Linked DNA regions of Homo sapiens: all the other regions are reported to be linked to region 2. The links are microRNA targets in miRTarBase. Many come from high-throughput screens and were not tested one by one. Region 2 holds a microRNA gene; each other region holds the end of a gene's coding sequence.
Evidence for each region. The annotated mature microRNA hsa-miR-1269a reads CUGGACUGAGCCGUGCUACUGG and lies in region 2 at 3,679-3,700, shown strand. An mRNA with a match to its seed (bases 2 to 7 or 8) in the 3' UTR can be bound and repressed. Matches are read on the target gene's strand: a 7mer-m8 pairs with bases 2 to 8, a 7mer-A1 pairs with bases 2 to 7 and ends in A, and an 8mer does both.

Region 1: miRTarBase lists CACNA2D3 as a target of hsa-miR-1269a. Seed matches in the 3' UTR shown: 7mer-A1 at 5,177-5,183.
Region 3: the mRNA of OR6A2 is a reported target of hsa-miR-1269a. Seed matches in the 3' UTR shown: 7mer-A1 at 2,288-2,294.

Annotation. Positions count from the first base shown.
Region 1 is chr3:55,072,776-55,079,493 of GRCh38, reverse strand. CACNA2D3 (calcium voltage-gated channel auxiliary subunit alpha2delta 3) reads right to left here. Exons shown (of 38, transcript NM_018398.3): 36 at 5,937-6,049; 37 at 5,635-5,717; 38 at 4,937-5,380. The coding sequence ends at 5,288. Among named protein-coding and RNA genes, the nearest start is that of LINC02017, 100 kb to the left of the region's middle. RefSeq lists a silencer at 1-111.
Region 2 is chr4:66,273,212-66,279,929 of GRCh38, forward strand. MIR1269A (microRNA 1269a) reads left to right here and starts at 3,613; the gene lies at 3,613-3,717.
Region 3 is chr11:6,790,153-6,796,870 of GRCh38, reverse strand. OR6A2 (olfactory receptor family 6 subfamily A member 2) reads left to right here. Exons shown (of 2, transcript NM_003696.3): 2 at 987-5,135. The coding sequence starts at 1,163. The coding sequence ends at 2,146. OR2AG1 (olfactory receptor family 2 subfamily AG member 1) reads right to left here. Exons shown (of 2, transcript NM_001004489.3): 2 at 5,313-6,718. Among named protein-coding and RNA genes, the nearest start is that of OR6A2, 6.2 kb to the left of the region's middle.

The DNA of each region.
Region 1 (6,718 bases), not on the chromosome of region 2:
CCTGAATAGTTTAAGATACAATGTAGCTAGATTGCTATTTTATTGAATCTGTAGTTTACTCTCTTACACTATGGAAGAGATTCCCAGCATTGGTACAGTCAACCTCCATAATTTAGATGCCAATAGGGATACCGAAGGTTAATGGCATCATTAAATTGTAAAGACAAAATCCCTAATAATCCTTAAGGATTAGAATAGGGTTCCTCAACTTTGGCACTGTTGAAACATTTGGCCAAACAATTCTTTGTTGTCGGGGGCTGTCCTGGGCTTTGTAGGATGGTAGCAGCATCCCTGGTCTCTATCCACTAGATGCCAGTAGCACTGCCCCTTCCCCCACAGTGTATCTTCTGCCATTGCCAAATGACCCCTCTGGGGCAAAGTCGTCTCGGTCTGTAACCACTGGATTAAGGGAAACGATGCCTGCAAAGCCCCCAGTAGGAATTTTGGTCACTACCAGCGGCGTGTGTGTGACGAAGTCCTATTAGTAGAAATGCCCCCAGCTGACTCTCCAGCAAATATGTGCCAATTAGAGACATCTTTGCAAAGCTTCCAAATTGCAGACACTGCAAATGGCCCTCAGGGGTCTGTTAAATTATTATGACCTCTGATACTGATAGTAATAAAGCTGTGCTCTTTCTGCCTGTAATTTTAATATTTTACTAAACTACAGAGTCTCCTATAACAAGAGCTATATTATTATCCTCTACAGTGCTGTACTGTTCATAATTTAAATAATAATGTACATTTCCTCATCCTAAATTACTTCACACATTAAATAGTAGTTTTTACCGACACCATTACAATCCTATTTTAGTGTGCTACATTATTCTAATTCTGTGTTCCCTTCAATACTGCTCCTAAAAGGACGGCACATGGAGCCGGCCAGTCTTTAATTTTAGGACACATGGAGGTATCATTGCATTGTCTTGTCTATGCTGCATTTTAGTATTCTACCCTCAATAAATATTGCAATTGTTCTATTATAATTTTATGAATTTTACCTAGTATATACATACAATGAATTTTATAATTATACAAGTATATACATGCATATATGAAATAGTTCTATATTTTAGGAAGAACGTTGCTACACTATGATTAGCTATAGATACCTTCTGAATCTGTTACAAATTATATTGAATGTCACAGCCTATAACTTTAGTAACTAATTGTGCTATATAATGCTCTATTAAACTATATCACATTAATTAGTCATAAACTGTACATTTTAGTAAAATGTTCTCTGATAAGTTACCTTTGGATATGTTTGGTATCAATCATATTAATATTGCATACAGAAATCTCCTACTGCAAATTTTAGAAAGACAACATACTCTAGAATATCCTAAAGAGAGGGAAGAAACTATGAAATACTTGTTGGGGACAGTGGGATAGAAGTCGACTCAGGAAAGAATATGTCAGGCTGCTTACTGCTCTGCCCAGGTATGCTAGGCAGCCCAGATGTGCTCAGCAGCTCGGGTAGCCATAGAATGTTATGTGACTTGTGTATTCTAAGTGAGATACGGGGAGAAATGAAGACAGGGGAGGGCTGCTGGGCAGCAGACAGTGGCCTGGAAGTGGGAGGACAGGAATAGCAGCCGCACTCAGGGAGGTGAGTTGGCAGGCTGGTATTAGAGAGCAGGGAGTGGAGGCCAAGCAGTTTGGAGAGATGGCAATAAGATCAGTGGGTAGGAGACGCGGAGATGTTGTAGTACAAAGTTATTGGCAATTCATTCATCCATTCGAAGTACTTGATTGGCTGAGTGCCCTGACTCGGAAGCAAAATTGCCTGGCTTCTAATCCCAACTCTGCTCTTTTCCAACCATGTGACCTTTGGGAGCATGACTTTTCCCCTTGTGCCTCCATTTCTCCATGTGTATAATGATGATCAGAATCACACCTACTTCCTAGGTGTGCTGTGAAAATCCCACGAGTTAAACATGGAAGTCACTTCAAATAACACCAGGCAGAGAGAGTCAGATCACAGTAAACAGTAGGTGCTAGCTTTGTCACTGTTATTGGTGGTTTTAGTTGTATTATAGGCCAGGCACTGTTCTGGGAGCTGGAGATGAAGTCACGAACGATAGAGGAGTCCTTGACCTATGGAGCTGGAATACAGTAGGTGAAACTGAAAATAAAATGATTCCAGATACTGATGTAAAGGAAAAGTAAAACCAGAGGAGTGGGGCTAGGGGAGAAGAGCAGCTGTACCAGGGGTCTCTGAGGAAGGAATTTTTGAAGGGAGCGTGGATGTTGGGAAGGAGCAGCCACATGAAGACCAGGGTCCAGAGCCCTCCAGGCAGAAGGCACATGAAAAACAAAAGCCCTGAGTGGGCACCATGCCTGGCATTTTCAAAGGCTTGGAGGCAGAGCCATGGAGCACAGCGGGTCTGGGGCAGAGCAGCACAGGATGGTGTGGGAAAGGGAGGCAGAGTCTAGCCGAGTCCCTGTAGGTCCCACAGCTCAGCGGATGCCAACCTGGCTTCATATTAACATCACCTGGGGAGTTTTAACAAAAACTAAAATGCCTGGGTTCTGCCCCAGAGTTTTCGTTTGTTTGAGATGGAGTCTCGCTCTGTCGCCCAGGCTGGAGTGCAGTGGCGCGATCTTGGCTCACTGCAACCTCCTCCTCCCGGGTTCAAGCGATTCTCCTGCCTCAGCCTTCCGAGTAGCTGGGATTACAGGCACCTGCCACCATGCCCGGCTAATTTTTGTATTTTTAGTAGAGACAGGGTTTCATCACGTTGGCCAGGCTAGTCTCCAACTCCTGATCTCAGGTGATCCGCCCACCTTAGCCTCCCAAAGTGCTGGGATTACAGGCATAAGCCACCATGGCCGGCCTGCCCCAGAGATTTTTTGAAAGGTCCCTGAGTGATTCGAACACACAGAAGACTCAGAGAACCCCTGCTGTGGACTACAGTAAGGGATGTGTATGTTGTTTTAATTGTACTGGGCAAGGCTAGGATCAGATATTTGTTTCCGAAAAACTGCTCTGGTTGTTGTGTGGAGAACGGACTGTGGAGTGGGACTGGGTGGTCGCTGACAGTGGAAGAGAGGAGACTAATGAGGACATAGGTCTTCAGAGACCAGGGACGGGGGTGGTGACTGGGAAGAGGATGGCAGCAGTGAGGGGCTGGGAAAAGTGATGGTCAGGTTTGGTGTTTGAAGGGCACAGCTCGTGAGACTTGCTGCAAGGTGGGTTGCGGGGGAAAGAGCAAATTGGGTGGCCCCAAGGTTTGGGGTTGGAGTTGCGTCAGTGGGAAGAAAAAAGTTTAATGGAGGGGGATCGTGAGTTGTGCTTAGGACACATTAAGTTGGAGAAAATTATTCAATTTCAAAGTAGACAAACAAACAGGGTCCAGTTGCTTGAAGCTGTTGTGAGAACAGCGAATCAGAGGTGCCTGGTGGGTCAGTTACATGAATGTAATCGTGACAAGGGCATGAGGTGCAGTGTGACTCAAGGATGCTATATTTATGCCATAAACAGTTTAACAAAAATGACTCCATCGTTTAGAATGAGACTGGGAGTGGAATTATACGTAATTATATTACATGTATTTTGCATCATTTGCATTAAATTATGGGCATTATAACATAATATGCTTGACTTATTGTTGCCAGTTTTTAAGAACTGTAATGGAGAATCATAGGTTATGTGATGTTATTTTTGTTAAAAATTAATTAAAATATGATTTCTCTCTTATAAATCATCTAACTTGCTCTCTTTTAAAATCACCTAAATAATTTTCCTATAAATCACCTAGATCTGTGATAAATTCATCTCTCTCAGTATTAAGCTCAATTTTCCTCTGGTCATCACCTTAGGTATAAATAGAATGTCTTTATACTTGTAAATAGAATGTCTTTATACTTGTAACTTTATGGGTTTAGAGTCTTATCATCAATCATTCCAGCTTAATAAATTGTGGCTCCTTATCTGATATCAATGTGTCAGTGTAAATGTAATATATCTATCTTTATATTTGTATGAGCAACAAATGAATTTATTCATTTACCAAGTGCACAGAGTGAGTAACATCAATTGTCACAATTCTATAGCTCCATGGCTGTTGAAAGTTTGGCAAGTTTGCCTGTTACAGTATTGTGATGTTGAGAACAAACAAACAGCACTGGAGGCATAGTAATTTAATTTTAAAAGTTATAACAACAAACAACAAACAATGTAGTGGAATCATTTTAGTATAAAGCAGTACAGTGACATCAGTTTTTCTAAAATATCAAGAGGATAATGTGCCCCTTTTTAAAAGAGTTTAAGTAAGTAAGTAGGATTCTCTGGATAACTTTTAGATGTCGTCTGTCCTATAAAGTAAGGCATTCTCTACTCTGCCTAGGCATGGAAATTATTTCACTTTATTTAGTAACCATGATCCAGTGAAATCTGTTTTCTTTGGGTCAAGAGCCAGCGTTTAGAAATGCTTGCTTACATGTCTGGGTAGTTTCATCTCATCATACTTGAGATCTAATTTCATATCTTGTTTATGGGGAAAGCCAGAAGCCAAATTTGTAATCATTGTTCTTTTCCTCCTTCAAGTCTCCTCAGACCGAATTCCTAGGATTTATGACTTCTTTATTTCTATTCCCAAATAATTCACCACTTGAATATGATGAAAGCTTGTGTTTGCATCCAAATTATGATTTTCATTGAAGTTTAGTTCAACAAAATTCACGGTTCTATGTAATAAACTCTTCCCATGTAGATGATATTTTGATATACTTCTATAAATATTTTTATAACTGAGAGTGAGTGAAGCATCTAAAAACAGTTGTTAAATATGTGCCTAGAATCTGCTTTAGAACAAAGGCTCTGCCAACAGCCATCATTTCCTGGTTTCTGGAATGGGGACCTTTTCCCCCATGCATTGTTTTCAGTTGGTGTTCTTAGCAATAAAGTGATGATAAAATCCAAACACGGAGATTATGATTTTAATATACTTTATTTAAAAAGTACACAGTTTTAAATTGGTTTCAATAGGTTTCAAGCAGAAGGGACACTGCCTACCACTTGCGGTCCCATTTCTGATGAAGGGTGATTATCATGTGGCAAACTCACATTTGCATGACTGGCAAAGTAAAAAGATGATAGATAACTTTTTGTCAACATATCTTTAAGAGTTTATATCACGCACAGTTTAAAATCATGATGAGATGCTGATGGTTGGACTATATTCATGTCTCGTATGTTGCACCATATTTTGGTTCACAGTTTATCCATGATTTAGCATGCCAAGAGAACATCTCAGTCAGTAAGAGAACATCTCAGTCAGTGTCACCTTGAGAAGAGCATCAAAAGCAGAGGGAGCAGAAGGAGGACTGTCTGGGCTTGGAGACTCGGCGCACCCCCACACTCCCTTGCATTCTCCTATGGGGAAAGGCAGGGGTTGGTTAGACGGAAATAGACTCCAGGACACCTTCAACTTTCCCCAGACCTCTCTCCCCCTCTCTAACGTAAGAACGAAGTCTTCTGGGACCTAGATGATGGTGCAGATTCAGTTTACTGAATGAAAGGGATTATTTTCTCATGAGTGAACTTTTCAGCTGTAGTTCTTTGACCAGTGTGAGACTCTCGTGGTGATTCTGATGGGAAAAGGAAACAGGAACAGTTCTCAGACTTACCTCAGGATGGAAGCCATGACAAGATTCTGGGCGCCTTCTGATCTTCTGGGCCTTTAGACGTTCACACTTAAGGGATTCATTATGTTGACTGTAGTTAAGGCATGTTTCCAAGGATTGCTTTTTTCTACTCTGCATTTCAGAGGTCAAAATTTGGCAATGACAACTCTCTTAACTACTCTCTCTCTCCAACAGTGGAAAGGATGTAATTTTCCTTCTCTAATATTTCTCCCCCAGGTTTCCTTACCACTGATACCCCTTACTGGTTTCCGTGGTAGTGAGTGGACCTGCACACAAAAGGATATACCTGATTTCAATGGGTGCCATGGTGATGGGGGCCACAGATTCACAGAGGCAGCTGCTGTCCACCACCACCATGAACAGGTTGCTGCTTGGGATTTGCTGGATGACAAAGGACCTGTTGGAACAAGAGGTAGCGAGGCAGTCATTTACCATCCGTCAATTAAAGAGCCATGAGGAAGACTTCTCTCCTGGGTGGTAGCAACTACCATATTTTGTAAAGCAAATTTTGGAGACTATTTTACTACTAATGTTACCTTCTTTCTCCATGAGGCTCTTCACTTACAAATACCTAGCTTCACTAGGAAAACAACAATAGCTATGACGACATGCGGCTCATACAACTCACCTTGGAAAGACTGAAGTGCTGTATGTACAAAACACAAGAGTCAGAGTTGGCTGAATCACCTGTTCCCAAGGTTTAAGAGGTCAGACTTTCAAAGCCTAATTTCCTTCTCCCAGAGCCTAAACATTACCCCAAGTTACATTTGATGTTCCTCTAAGTGGCGTTTTCTCTCCTCCTTCCCTCAACGATAGACTGAAACTATGTCATACCAATGGCAAAAGAGATAGTGAACTTCTTAGAGCCTTCCTTATACTGCTTTGCACAACGTCTGCCCAGTATACAGGAACAGTGTTTTGAATGAGATTAATGCTAGTCATTTATGAGGTCCCACACTTCCCAGAGCCCAAGTTCTATAAGAAAGAGCCAAGGCTGTATATCTGCTCTGACCTTCTGATCCATCAGGATAGTTAGTCCAACTTAAACAAGCTTGGCAGTGCCTCC
Region 2 (6,718 bases):
TTTATAATGATCATAGTGGCAGGAATTTAGCTGATATTTCCAAACACTCAATAGGAGTGGTTTTTCCACTCTCCTGAGTGCCTCTCAGCTGCAGGTAAAGAATGTTACAGCTGGATGAGAGAGCTAATTAGAGCCAATTATAGCTTGAGTGACCAGCAACGGCATTAAAATGTCTGGCAGAATCTACCTTGTCCTTGTAACACAGAGGTTTTGTATCTTTACAAATACTGTCTTGGAACATTAAACATTTTGTAGAATTGCAGGTAATAAGCACTTAAATTTAATAATCAAAAGAAGCATTGCCAAAGTAATCCTGAAAGTAGGACTTCACTAGACAAAATTATACATTGACTGCCAAAGTCATCTCAAAATTAACAGTAAATTTCAGATACTTAATGAGAAGCATTGAAGTTCTATAACAAATTTGAACTTAATGAATCCAGTGACCTGAATTTAATTCAACATGTGTATTCATGTTTTCTCATATGAGACACATTGTCTTAGTATTTTGGAGGAGCTATTGGCAGTCTGTCTTAATTTTACTTTACTTATTTTGTTCCAGTAGGATACACCAATCCTTTGATGAGTGGGAATGTTTTTGGATAACATTTTATTCCTATCCATTCAGTTCACAAGAATGTAGAACTTCATCTGGCCCTTGGAAAGTGGGGAAGGTTGTGTAGGCAGAAGAAGGGTCAAATCATTTTATCTTATATTTTTATAGCTTTTGTTTGAAAAAAATGATATGATGACAAATAGAAGCAGAATACTTCTAAATATTAAATTAAAATTTTGAAGAGACACTGAAGCTATTACATTATATTTAAAATGCAGTTGTGCAAAATTATATTTTTAATCTACCTAATTATTCATCTGTTGTGAATATAGCTATCTCAAAAATTATAGTACTGTGTTCTATAATATCCAGATGTTCCAAATAATGATTAGAAGTAAACATGAGTACATTTTTGAAATATGTCTTTAAAGGGCTAAAAATTGAAAATATCATAAATAGGAAATACATAAAACCATTTTATAATATGCTTTATGCTTGAAAGGTGAATAGTAGGTATAGAAAATTATATGAGAAATTTCTACTGCTTAACTAGTTCAAAATTTAAAATGCAAAGCCTACATTTATTATAATTAGGTATATTTATAATGCACCATTTTCTGAAAGTCATGGTAACAGTATATAGCCATAATTTATAAGGGAGTAATCAATAATTTCTGATAGGTTGAACACAGCAAAATCAATTAGCATCTATATAGAAACAAAAATTGTTTTTCTGGTATGCATTTCTAAACAGCTTTAAAGACTACACGATGAAAATGCACTTCATGGAATTGTTCGTCCTTACTCAAATTCAATTCCAGTTATGACCCTGAGAGATGATTAGTAAATTCAACTTTTTAATTAGCATTTTGCATAATTCATTGAAATTATAATGCACTCATGCATTTGATTGTCAAGGTGCAGATGTGCTAATATGAGGCTATAATTTTCTCATCTAAATAACACTTTTAGTAAAACCTCCAATTTCTCACAATTCTATTATATAAGACCTATTATTGCTCATTTTTAAAAAATGAGTTCAGTTGGATTTTGAAGTCAGCTTGTATTGTTACAATGGATTGCTCAGGATACTAAGGACCAAAATAAACTAACTTTTTAAAAAAAATTATTTATTCCATTTTGGTTAATACTACTTGATCACAGTTAAAACAACTTTTAAATGTACCAAGTAGACTTTATGGATTTATAAATTATATCCAAATAGACCCAAATAGAAATTATAAAATAAAAAATTAAAGGGATGCTGTTTTTTCATTTTATTTCTCTGAAGAAGTATGGGCACAATAATCATAGACTCTTCACCACAGGATGTTCCGGTGAAATTAGCGCTAAACCAAAAACACAGGCTTTTATTTAATGTGTGGTTTCATGAGATGAACCTTGGTACTTAAAAAAATAATTGATTGATATCTTTCTCAAAGCTTCCCAAAGTTTTCCCAAAGGTGTATCTATTTACATTGAATTTTAGTGCTTGTTTTCATATAAATCACAAGCTCCTATCCACTGGGGAGCTTTGCTTCATCAACTCTATAGAAAATGAGAAAAAAAGAAGTAAAATATGGAATGTGGCTGTTCAAAGAAATGGCAGGATGCACTAGAACATTGTTTTCTTTCTGTACACCAGACAGATTGTTAGAATGAATTAAATGTTTCCAAACGAGGTGAGAGAACTTGCAAACCAGAATTCCTGGCCGTGAGTCCTATTTACAAATGAGGTAAACTGCCTGGAATCAAGCAACCAAACACGTGATGGTTGCTGCCTACTCTGCCAGCATAGATGTTTGTGCTGTCGGTCCTGAGAACACTGGCCAGCAAAATTGCTATTATTGCAAACATGTGTGGCAATGCTGAATGAGATTTCTAAGGAATTGTGTGGTAGAATGAATATTAGTGTTTGGGACAAATGCTTTCTTAGGACATAATTTAAAAAACACTTCCTACATTCCCAAACTCTGCTGTACAGAATGTTTATTACATGGATAGTAGTATAAAGAGACCACTGTGTTACTCCTGGCATGGCCTACATAAGTCCCTAGTAGGCAATCCCTCACAGCAATTTTATAGCATCTGGCTCTAGGTAGCTCATAAAACAAAGTGAAGCATTGCAGTCATGGCAATGCTGATGAGCTGAGATTGGCTCATGTTGAGTTCCACTGTTGTACTTCCAAGTGGTATTATACTGTGTCTCATGATTCTTTCATGCTAGGAAATTTTTTTTGTCTTTACTTATTAATGTTTGTATAAAAGATTGAAGTGACTGGCATATTTGTTTGATAATACCTGTGTTAACTTAAAATGTAGTGGATGAAGGTTCTAAAGTTCCCAGAAATTGCCAAGCATTTGGAAATAATCATTTTAAAAATGGTAATGTGGAATTTTATTTTCAGAGGCTATGAAGGTTACTTCTAAATAAGAAAGAATTTGATAAAAACTATGCTTCTCCCTCCCCCAAATCTGTTTTCATGTAAAAGACAAATAAATGATGACTTCCCCCACCCCGCAAAAAAAAAATTTTTTTTTGAACTATGCTTCACTAAGACCTTAAGTGTAAGTTTACAATCCTAAATTGTATCTTAGGTGGACTTCCTAATTGAATTATTTGTATCATTTTCATGCATACATTCATTACTTTTAACTTCATTCAATGATTTTTATTTTTAATAATTATGTGAAAATCAGCAATGGTTAACTTTAGGTGTCAACTTGACTAGATTAAGGAATACTTAGCTGGAAAAGTATTGTTTCTGGGTGTGTCGGGGGGGGTGTTTTTTGAGGAGATTGATATGTGAGTCAGTGGATTGAGTGAGGAAGATTCTCCCTCAGTGTAGAAAGGAACCATCCTATTTGGGGTTCCAGATGGAAAACAAAGTCAAAGGAAGGACAAACTATTGCTCTCTTTCTTGCTTCCAAAGCAAGAGGCTCTTCTATTCCTGCATTTGAATATCAGAACTCCAGTTCCTCCAGCTCTTGGACTCTGGGGCTCACAACAGCAGCTCTGTTTTGGGGCCTTTGACCTGGGACTGAATTCATACCACTGGATTGCCTAGACCAGGGAAGCCAGTTGGCATGGCTCAGTCCAAGTCTGACCACCTGAGGAATGCCTGGACTGAGCCGTGCTACTGGCTTCCCTGGTCTCCAGCTTGCAGATGGCCTATCATGAGACTTCTCAGCCTCCATAATCATGGGAGCCCATTCCGCTAATAAATCTTCTCTAATGTAACTATCTCCATATCCTATATGTTCTACCTCCCTAGGAACCCTGACTAACAGTCATTAACCTTTAACAGTACATTTCAAACGATGAAGCTCTTCGGATTCCAAATATACTTAAGAAGACTTTCTAAATACCATTCAAATGAAAAGATAAAGCCAAAAATTTATAGTACCACTTAGAAATGAGGCCGAAATTTATGGGACATCATTGTAATATTTTCCTGATGAATATTTCCAGAAAAAATTTCATTTAAGGAGTGATTGCATTTTAAAAAGAAGATGCATGGAAGGAACAATGAGGATAACATGAAACACACTTGCAGCATATTGTGGTGTATATAAATTATACTCCCGGACACTTCCTAGTTTGGTAACAAGTTTCATGTTCTCCAAGTTTCCTGTTAATCAGCAATGTTTGAAACAATTTGGTTGCTTCACTGTATAATGTTTCCAAGAAAACTAAAGCCTCACTAATGTACACATAGCTCTCAAAAGAAGACGTGTATATGCATTAGATTCCACTGTGGTTATATGAGCATCCTAGGACATTAAAAAAAGGAAATTACATAGAGAAGTCTCAGTGTGCTACTTTTTGAAGTCACGAAGAGCAAAGTAGTCTTCAGATTGACACGTGTGCACCATATCTGAATGATATAGTTAACTCCATCAGTCCTGTTATTAAGTTTTTCAGCTTTTGATATTTTTAATAAAAAGATTAGTCAATACTCTAATATTGTTCACTTTTTCACTTCATTTTTGTTTTGGTCATATGGTATTGAGAAGGATGAAGTTTTAGGTCAATCAATGGGAAGATAAAATAAAATATGAGGAGGAACAAAGAAATGCACAGAAAATTCCCAGCAGTTGATGAAGGAAAAAGTAATTGGGAAGTTATTCATAAGTGGTTAGCATTTCAGAAATCTCTGTGGCATTGCTTACTAACCCACATAATAGATGAGATTAATAAGTATCCTGTTAATCAGCAGCAGCGCTATTATCATCATTAATAATATAAATGTTTTCCTTTTCTATTTCTTTTTCTTTTTTAAAAACTTTTAAGTTCAGGGTTACGTGTGCAGGTTTGTTATATAGGTACACTTTTGTCATGGGGTTTTGTTGTACAGACTATTTCTTCACTCAGATATTAAACCTAGTAACTATTAGTTTTTTTTTCCTCATTTTCTCCCTCATCCAACCCTCCACTTTCCACCTTCCATTATGCCCTATGTGTTGTTCCCCGCTACATGTACATATGTTCTCATCATTTAGCTCCCTTTTATACATGAGAACATGTGATATTTGGTTTTCTATTTCTGCATTAGTTTGCTAAGAATAATGGCCTCCAGCTCCATCCATGTCCCTGCAAAGACATGATCTCATTCTGTTTTTTTTTATGGCTGCATGATATTCCATGGTGTATATGTACCACAATTTCCTTATACAGCCTATTACTGATGGGCATTTAAGTTAAGTTCATTTCATGTCTTTGCTATTATGAATAATGCTGCAATGAGCATACTCATGCATTTGTGTTTACAATAGAACAATTTATATTCCTTTGGGCATATACCCAACAATGGGGTGGTGGGACTAATGGTAGTTCTGACTTTAGGTCTTTGAGGAATTGTCACGGGGTCTTCCATGATGGCTGAACTAATTTACACTCCCACCAACAGTGTATAAGCATTCCTTTTTCTCCACAACCACATCAGCGTCTGTTTTTTTTTTTTACTTTTTAATAATAGCCATTGTGACTGATGTGAGATGGTATCTCATTGTGGTTTTCATTATCATTTCTCTAATAATCAGTAGTGTTGAGCGTTTTTTAGTATGATTGTTGGCCACATGTATTTCTTCTTTTGAAAAGTGTCTGTTCATGTCCTTTGCCCACTTTTTAATATTCACATTTGCCGGAAAATCAGGTTTGGGGATAAGATAAAGATCATAAAATACATATTTAATGTGCTTAAAGAAATAAAATTTGAAGAAAGAATTCATGGATTGAAACATTAAACAGAAAAAAATTGTAGCAAAGATAAATAAAAATGGATAACTTGAAAAAAGTTAACAAGACATGTAGATGTCTTAATCTGTGTCCCGTTGCTAAAACTGAATACTGCAAACTGATGATTTGTAGGAATAAATGTTGATTTGTTCATGGTTCTGGAGATGGAGAGTTCAAGAGCATGTTTCTGGTATCTAGTAAAAGATTCCTTGCTGTGTCAGAACATAATGAGGGAATCACATAGCAAGAGGCCAAGAGTGTGCCCATTCAGATTTCTCTTCCTCTTTTTACAAAGCCACTAGTCCTACCACAGGGGCTCCATTCTTATGATCTTGTCTAATTCTAATTACCTCCCAAAGTCACCACTTCAAGTCAACATATAAATTTGAAGACTACATTCCCAACACATGGAATTTTGAGACATGCTTAAACCATAGAAATAAATAATAGAATAAAAGTATAGTATGTATCTAATTAGTGTCTGAGAAGGGAAGAAAATTATGTATTGGGCCACTGAGATATACTGGCTGAGAAATTTTTAGAAATGTTAAAACCACAAATGGTCACTTAAAGGGGAGTACGTTGTACATCACGCATGATAAAGCAAAAATAAATAAATAAATATAAATCTTCATATAAAAATGTGGAGATTTCAGGCCATAAAACCATTTTCAACCAATTTCTAAAATTTGATAACATAAAAATTATGTTATCCAAGCACAGTGAAATGTCTTTTTGTTTCCTGTGCTGTTTTGAACTATAAGTTATATATTTCTATTTGAAATATAAGATATGTTTCTATTTGAAATATAAGATATATTTCTATTTGAAATATAATATAAGATATATATTTCTATTTGAAATATAATATAAGATATATATTTCTATTTGAAATATAAGATATATATTTCTATTTGAAATAT
Region 3 (6,718 bases), not on the chromosome of region 2:
TGTACAGGGGAACAGGGTAAAAATAACCCTTCCTTCATATCAACTCCCATGTAAAAATCCCAACTTCTTGTCTACATGAGACACAAAAATGGCTTGAAGTTTTTAAAGGGAAAGGGAAATTTTTATCTTTGATACCAAGGTAAACAAACAGTATCCTAGTAAATGTATGTTTTTATATGGGCCTTAATGTTAAAGGAAGATACTCTATCCTCATTTCAAGATACTTAGTACAACTTCCAGCATCTTGTAATTCTTAGTCTTTCTGCCATCCAGCATCCATTTCCTAATCTGATTTCCTAGTGAATCTCATGTCTTCCTTGTAAGTACTGGGTTCTGCAGACTTCCACTCTACAGGTACTGTGACCTTCTGGTATTCTGCTTTTGTCTTTCTTTCCTCCTGGCAGGAAGGAACTGTTTCTGTAACTGATCTCAAAGATTCTCTCTCCCAGCTGTACATCCAAGATGTATTGTACAGTCCCTCCTTTACATCACCTAAATATTTTGGAAGCTCCAAGGTCCTGACTTCCCAGTTCCACCTCTTGCTATTTCTGCAACCCAGAATTAGTCACTTAAATCTATATTTCAGTTTTTTTAGGCATACAGTTGTAGCTATTAGTAGTACTAGCCCACAAGATTGTTGTTAAGATCAAGCGAATTAATACTGCAAATGTTTTACAGCAGTGCATGCAATAATAACAGTGCCTGTGCTAATAATAACTCAATTGTGTTATATATGATTGTTATTCCTCCATTGTGTAACTTATTTCCTCAAAACAGAGTCATGATCCAACTCAAAGACAAACTCTCATTTTAGGGCAGCCGAGACTCTTTCAATTTTTTGGTTTTGATCTATGTTCTTTGGGGACAAAATAGTGTCATTTTTCCCCAGTGCATCTCAATGCATGCTTCTCCAAAGGTCAGAACAGACTCCTTCCTATCTTGTTTCCAAAAAAAAAAAAACATTTATTTTTGTATGTTTGCCTTAGCTCATTTCCAGATTAAAGAAGAGAGCAGTGGCCTCAGCTCAGTGATTAATTACATGAACTCCTTACGTGGTATTCGACCAATATAAGCCCATTAAGAGAAAGGCTGGGTTCTTGTTGTGGCCTACTGAAGACTCTCTACTCTCATCTCCTGAAGAGCAGTAAGAGAGACCAATGACATGGAGTGGCGGAACCATAGTGGGAGAGTGAGTGAGTTTGTGTTGCTGGGCTTCCCTGCTCCTGCGCCACTACAGGTACTATTGTTTGCCCTTTTGCTGCTGGCCTATGTGTTGGTGCTGACTGAGAACACACTCATCATTATGGCAATTAGGAACCATTCTACCCTCCACAAACCCATGTACTTTTTTCTAGCTAATATGTCCTTTCTGGAGATCTGGTATGTCACTGTCACTATTCCCAAGATGCTTGCTGGCTTTGTTGGATCCAAACAGGATCATGGACAGCTAATCTCCTTTGAGGGATGCATGACACAGCTCTACTTTTTCCTTGGCTTGGGCTGCACTGAGTGTGTCCTTCTCGCTGTTATGGCCTATGATCGCTATATGGCCATCTGCTATCCTCTCCACTACCCAGTCATTGTCAGTGGCCGGCTGTGTGTGCAGATGGCTGCTGGCTCTTGGGCTGGAGGTTTTGGCATCTCCATGGTCAAAGTTTTTCTTATTTCTGGCCTCTCTTACTGTGGCCCCAACATCATCAACCACTTTTTCTGTGATGTCTCTCCATTGCTCAACCTCTCATGCACTGATATGTCCACAGCAGAGCTTACAGATTTCATCCTGGCCATTTTTATTCTTCTAGGGCCACTCTCTGTCACTGGGGCCTCCTATGTGGCCATTACTGGTGCTGTGATGCACATTCCTTCGGCTGCTGGACGCTATAAGGCCTTTTCCACCTGTGCCTCTCATCTCACTGTTGTGATAATCTTCTATGCAGCCAGTATCTTCATCTATGCTCGGCCAAAGGCACTCTCAGCTTTTGACACCAACAAGTTGGTCTCTGTACTGTATGCTGTCATTGTACCATTGCTCAATCCCATCATTTACTGCCTGCGCAATCAAGAGGTCAAGAGAGCCCTATGCTGTACTCTGCACCTGTACCAGCACCAGGATCCTGACCCCAAGAAAGCTAGCAGAAATGTATAGAAGGGATGTGTGAAATCTGATAAAATGCTATTAAACTTGGGATCAATGTGTTCTATGAAGTCCAGTGGAGTTCTTAGGGCCTAAATTGGGGGCCAGAGTTTCAAAGGCATCACTATGGAACTAGGAATACTTTCTTTAACTAGTCCAAGAGGAGAGAGAGGAATAGGTTGCAAGCTAGAAAATGGATTTCTGCAGGACAGGGCCATAAAATACAGGATAGAGCTGGGTCCACTATTGTCTGTCCCTTTGTAATTTGCATAGACAAGGTTCCAATCAAGGAAGCACAGGCTTCATTACGGAAAAGCAACACAAGACTTTTTGATAAGATCTCTATTAGGTAGCAGAGGCCCAGGAGATATCATTCTAGCGTGTGTTACAAGGCAAGGAGATAAGAAACTAGGAATTTTTGTTTTGGGAACATATCACCTATCAAAACATAATGGTTTCTAGGTTTATTTTCAAATTTACTGTGGTCAGTGTCCACATTGAACTAGTGGCTGAGTGCAGTTGTTTCATCAATACTCTGTCTCCCTGATTAGACTATAAGCACCATGGTGACAGGATCAGATTTTCTTTTACATCCTTTTATTACCATGGGCAGGAACAGTATCTAGTGCATGATGGCTATGAATATGTATAATGAATGAATATAGTTTGGAACCATGTAGGCAAGGCATGTGTGTCATGCCTATATGTGGGGTTGGCAGGTGCAGGAAGTAAACCCCTCATACTTTACTAGTATGCAGAGAGATACAAATTGGCTCAGCCTTGCCAGAAAAAAATTTTGAAAATATGTATTACAAATCCTAAAAATATTGCAACCATTCTGATTCGGAAAGATTTGTGCAGATAGACACTTTTACTTATAAATACAGAAACAAGGAAAGGAAATAAGCAAAATATGCTCAACTTTCGCAAACAGGGCACTGGTCAAATAAATTGTAGCTCATATGTTACATGGAAAACTATGCAGAAATTGAAATAAAGTGATCTAAATAGAGTTAATGAAAGAAAAAATATTTCTAACTTAATAAAAATATTATGTTATATAACAGTATCAAAAATATCAGCCATATTTGCTTGTTTAAACAAGACTAGAAGGAATATGACTAAAATGCTGGCTAGATAATGCTGGACTGCTTACACCTGTAAATTGCATTCTGTGGCTAAGCATTGCCATCAATATATTTATTTAAATGCTTTTTTTCTTAGCCCATATTATATATAACTTTATTTATCTGGACAGGGAGATGGATACAGGGTATGTCAGTATGATTTTCAGAAATTTAGCTCCCTACTGTCACCCGACAACCAGAACTCTGAAGACAGTGAAGATTCTATCTCCAGATATGGATCCAACTGTTGCTCAAGATGTGGGATCTAACTTTATTGCTGTATGTTACTTAATAAAATTTACAAAAGGATATTACCAAGGATATCATGCATTATTTGCTAGCCCATACTTATTAAAAGTTTTAATATAATGTGCATATCTATTTGTGCCTAAACAGTATAAGTATCTTGTTGTAATAATTTTTTAAATGACTGGATATAAAGTTCATCAAAAATCTACTGTCGAAGTGTCCCCGTAGAAGAAGTTTCTGAAATGGGGTTGTGATCAGGGATGGGAGAGTCCTCCTCTAGGCATTGTTATTACAACTCTTTTATAAACTCTTTTATAAGTTAACTCGAGTTAATAGGAAGTAAAAGCATAATGTTGAATTTCTTCATTGTGCTTTTCTTTTATTTTCCAATGCTTTAAAACACCTCTAATTCTGATTTCAAGTATTGGAATAGGGTTTAGCACAGTATTCCTCACATACTCACCTTTCAATAAACCACGAATGAGTTTGAGTCCCATGTACTATGGTGAGATTGACACCTCTCCAGACGGGGACTGAATTTTTAGTGAACATATGACCCTCAGGACTCATATTGAAATTGAGGTCACAAAACTTTGTAAACTTTTTCATGTGAAGTATTGATTATCAGATTAAGTATCCCCCATCCTCCATTTATGTAACTGATTTTTCCCATAAACGTAGATGTAGAACTTTATTTTATCCTTGTTCCATTTGATCCTGTTTGTTTTCGACCATCTTTGTAATCTGCCGGTCTTTCAAAGTATTGCTTAGATAATATAAGTCTTTTATAATTCCCCTTTGCTAATACAGTATCTGGAGAAGCTTCTAGTCTCTTGCATCAGTACAAGAGGTGGGAGTACTGGATCTACCCGGGTTATTCAGAGTGGCCAGAGGCAACTAACAACTACAGGCAAGTGAGGATTAATATAAATGACTTCTGTGCTCCAGGTGTCTAGTGGTTTCCAATGTTGAGTAAACTCCAGATTTCTCAGTCTGCCTTTTAAGTTTCTTCACAGCACATTCTTAATTTTCCTTTTTGTCCTTATTTTAATTTTTTGTCCACTACAAACCTTGTACAGGTGAATTCTAGATTGTGATTAACAATTTTTATTTGAGACTAATAAGCCAGTGTATTTCACTGTTTGCTAAAACATCACATTGACCAGGATCAGGAAACAAAAATCCTTCTTGATAAACAGCATTTTAAAAATAACAATTGTTCTGCAGCTCTGTAAACCCTATTTCCCTTCATTAAAAAACCCTTACAGTTATGAACAAGTAAAGACTGAGAAATATCAGATCAAAGCTTGTCAAAGAGACAAGATACCTATATGGAGTACGGTATATTGGATTGGACCCTGGAACATAAAGTAATACTAACAGAAAAGATAATAAAATCTGAATAAAATGGCAAAATCTGAATAGTTTAACAGTGATGTATCAATTTTGGTTTCTTATTTTGACAAGTATGTATGCTAATGAAGGATGAATATATTAGAAGAAACAAACTGAGAGATGGGTGTGTGAAAAACTCTCTTTAGCATCTTTGCAATTTTTCTGTAAGCCTAATATTGTTCCAAAATTTAGAAGTTTATTTTAAAAAGAAACACGTTGTTAGTTTTTCCTTACCAAATATTTTAAGAGAAGTTTGATTTATTTTACTGGCTTTCATAAAATAAAGATATATTTTCCCTTCCTTTATAGTTACAATAATATGTACAGCTAACACTTGACTTTTTTGAATATTTACCTGAATTTTTTTATTATCATGATATTCATGAATTGATGCTGTTTTTATTTAGCTAATTGATAAGACAGAGATGAAGTGAAGTATAATTAACAAAATTGATAAAGTTAGTGCTTTATATACTTAGCAACTCTAAAAAATTATGCCAGCTCTTTTGAATATCACCATTTGGTGCCAGCAAGAATAAGTGGACATCTCCGTGTGCTTGGTAGAGAAGCGGGCCTATAGGGCAGGTGTATTCATTTTCTCTTAGAAGCATTCCTCAGATCAAGATTGCCTTGTGTGATTTTCATGTTTCATAGTCACACTTCATGAAAACCAATGGCCCCCGCCTTCCCAGAATTAGTGACAATACACAATATGCCTTTCAACAAAGATTTTGGTTGGTTGGAGTGGGGAAAGAGCTAGGTCCGTTCTTCTCCACCAAATATCAGTCACACATAGGCCTTCAGATCCTCAAGGACTGGAGAACATTTTCTAAGACTTCTCATTTTTTCAGTCCCTTGCTTCAGCTCCCTGCAGCTAACTTTGGCTACTCACCAAGACACAAGTGCATCTCCTTGGCCTTTGTTCTTGCAAAACTTCTAGCAGTTGACTCCAGATTTTATGGTTACTTTTGGCACAATTAGCAGCAGAGACAGAAATAACTAGGCTGTGGATGACTTGATGGACAGAAGGGTCTGTCAGTTCACCCTTTTCTTAGCATGCAGGGCACACTTCACAGATGTTAATGTCTGAGTGCTTCCTGGAGTCCAAAGCAGTGGTGGGGCCTCTTGTCACTGAGGAGGAATTATTATCCTATAGCTTCACTGTTTGCTGTCATTACTCTGCGTTCCTTCCTGTTCTAGGCTGAAAGCCTAGAGGGCTCTACACTGCAAGTCGTCTCATCTAATTTGTACTATTCAAATCCTGGGTGTAGTTCATATTCCAGCAGAGGTAATATTTTACATTCCTATAATGAAGACAAAGCAGCTTTAGAAATGTTTTCAAATGATTTTTTATGTTTATTATTATGTATAATTTGCCCATAGTTTTCTTTTTTTTCCAACTTTATTGAGATATGGTTGACAAATATGACTAGAATGTATTTAAGGTATACAGTGTGATGATTTGATATACGTATACCCTGTGAAATGATGACCACATGCAAGCTAATTAACAGAGCAACATATCAATCACCTTACATACTTACCCTCTGTGCGTGTGTGTTGTGAGAACACGTGACATCTACTTCTGCAGCAAATTTCAAGTACACATTTTTATTAACTTCAGTCACCATGCTATATGTTGGAACCTCAGAAATTATTCATCTTAAAAATAAAAGTTTGTATCTGTTGACTAATATTTTTCATTTCCTCCCACAGTCACCCCAAACCCTTGGCAAACACCACTGTACTCTCTATTACTGAGTTAGACTCTTTTCTAGCTTCCGCATTAAGCAAAATTAGACAGCATTTGTAT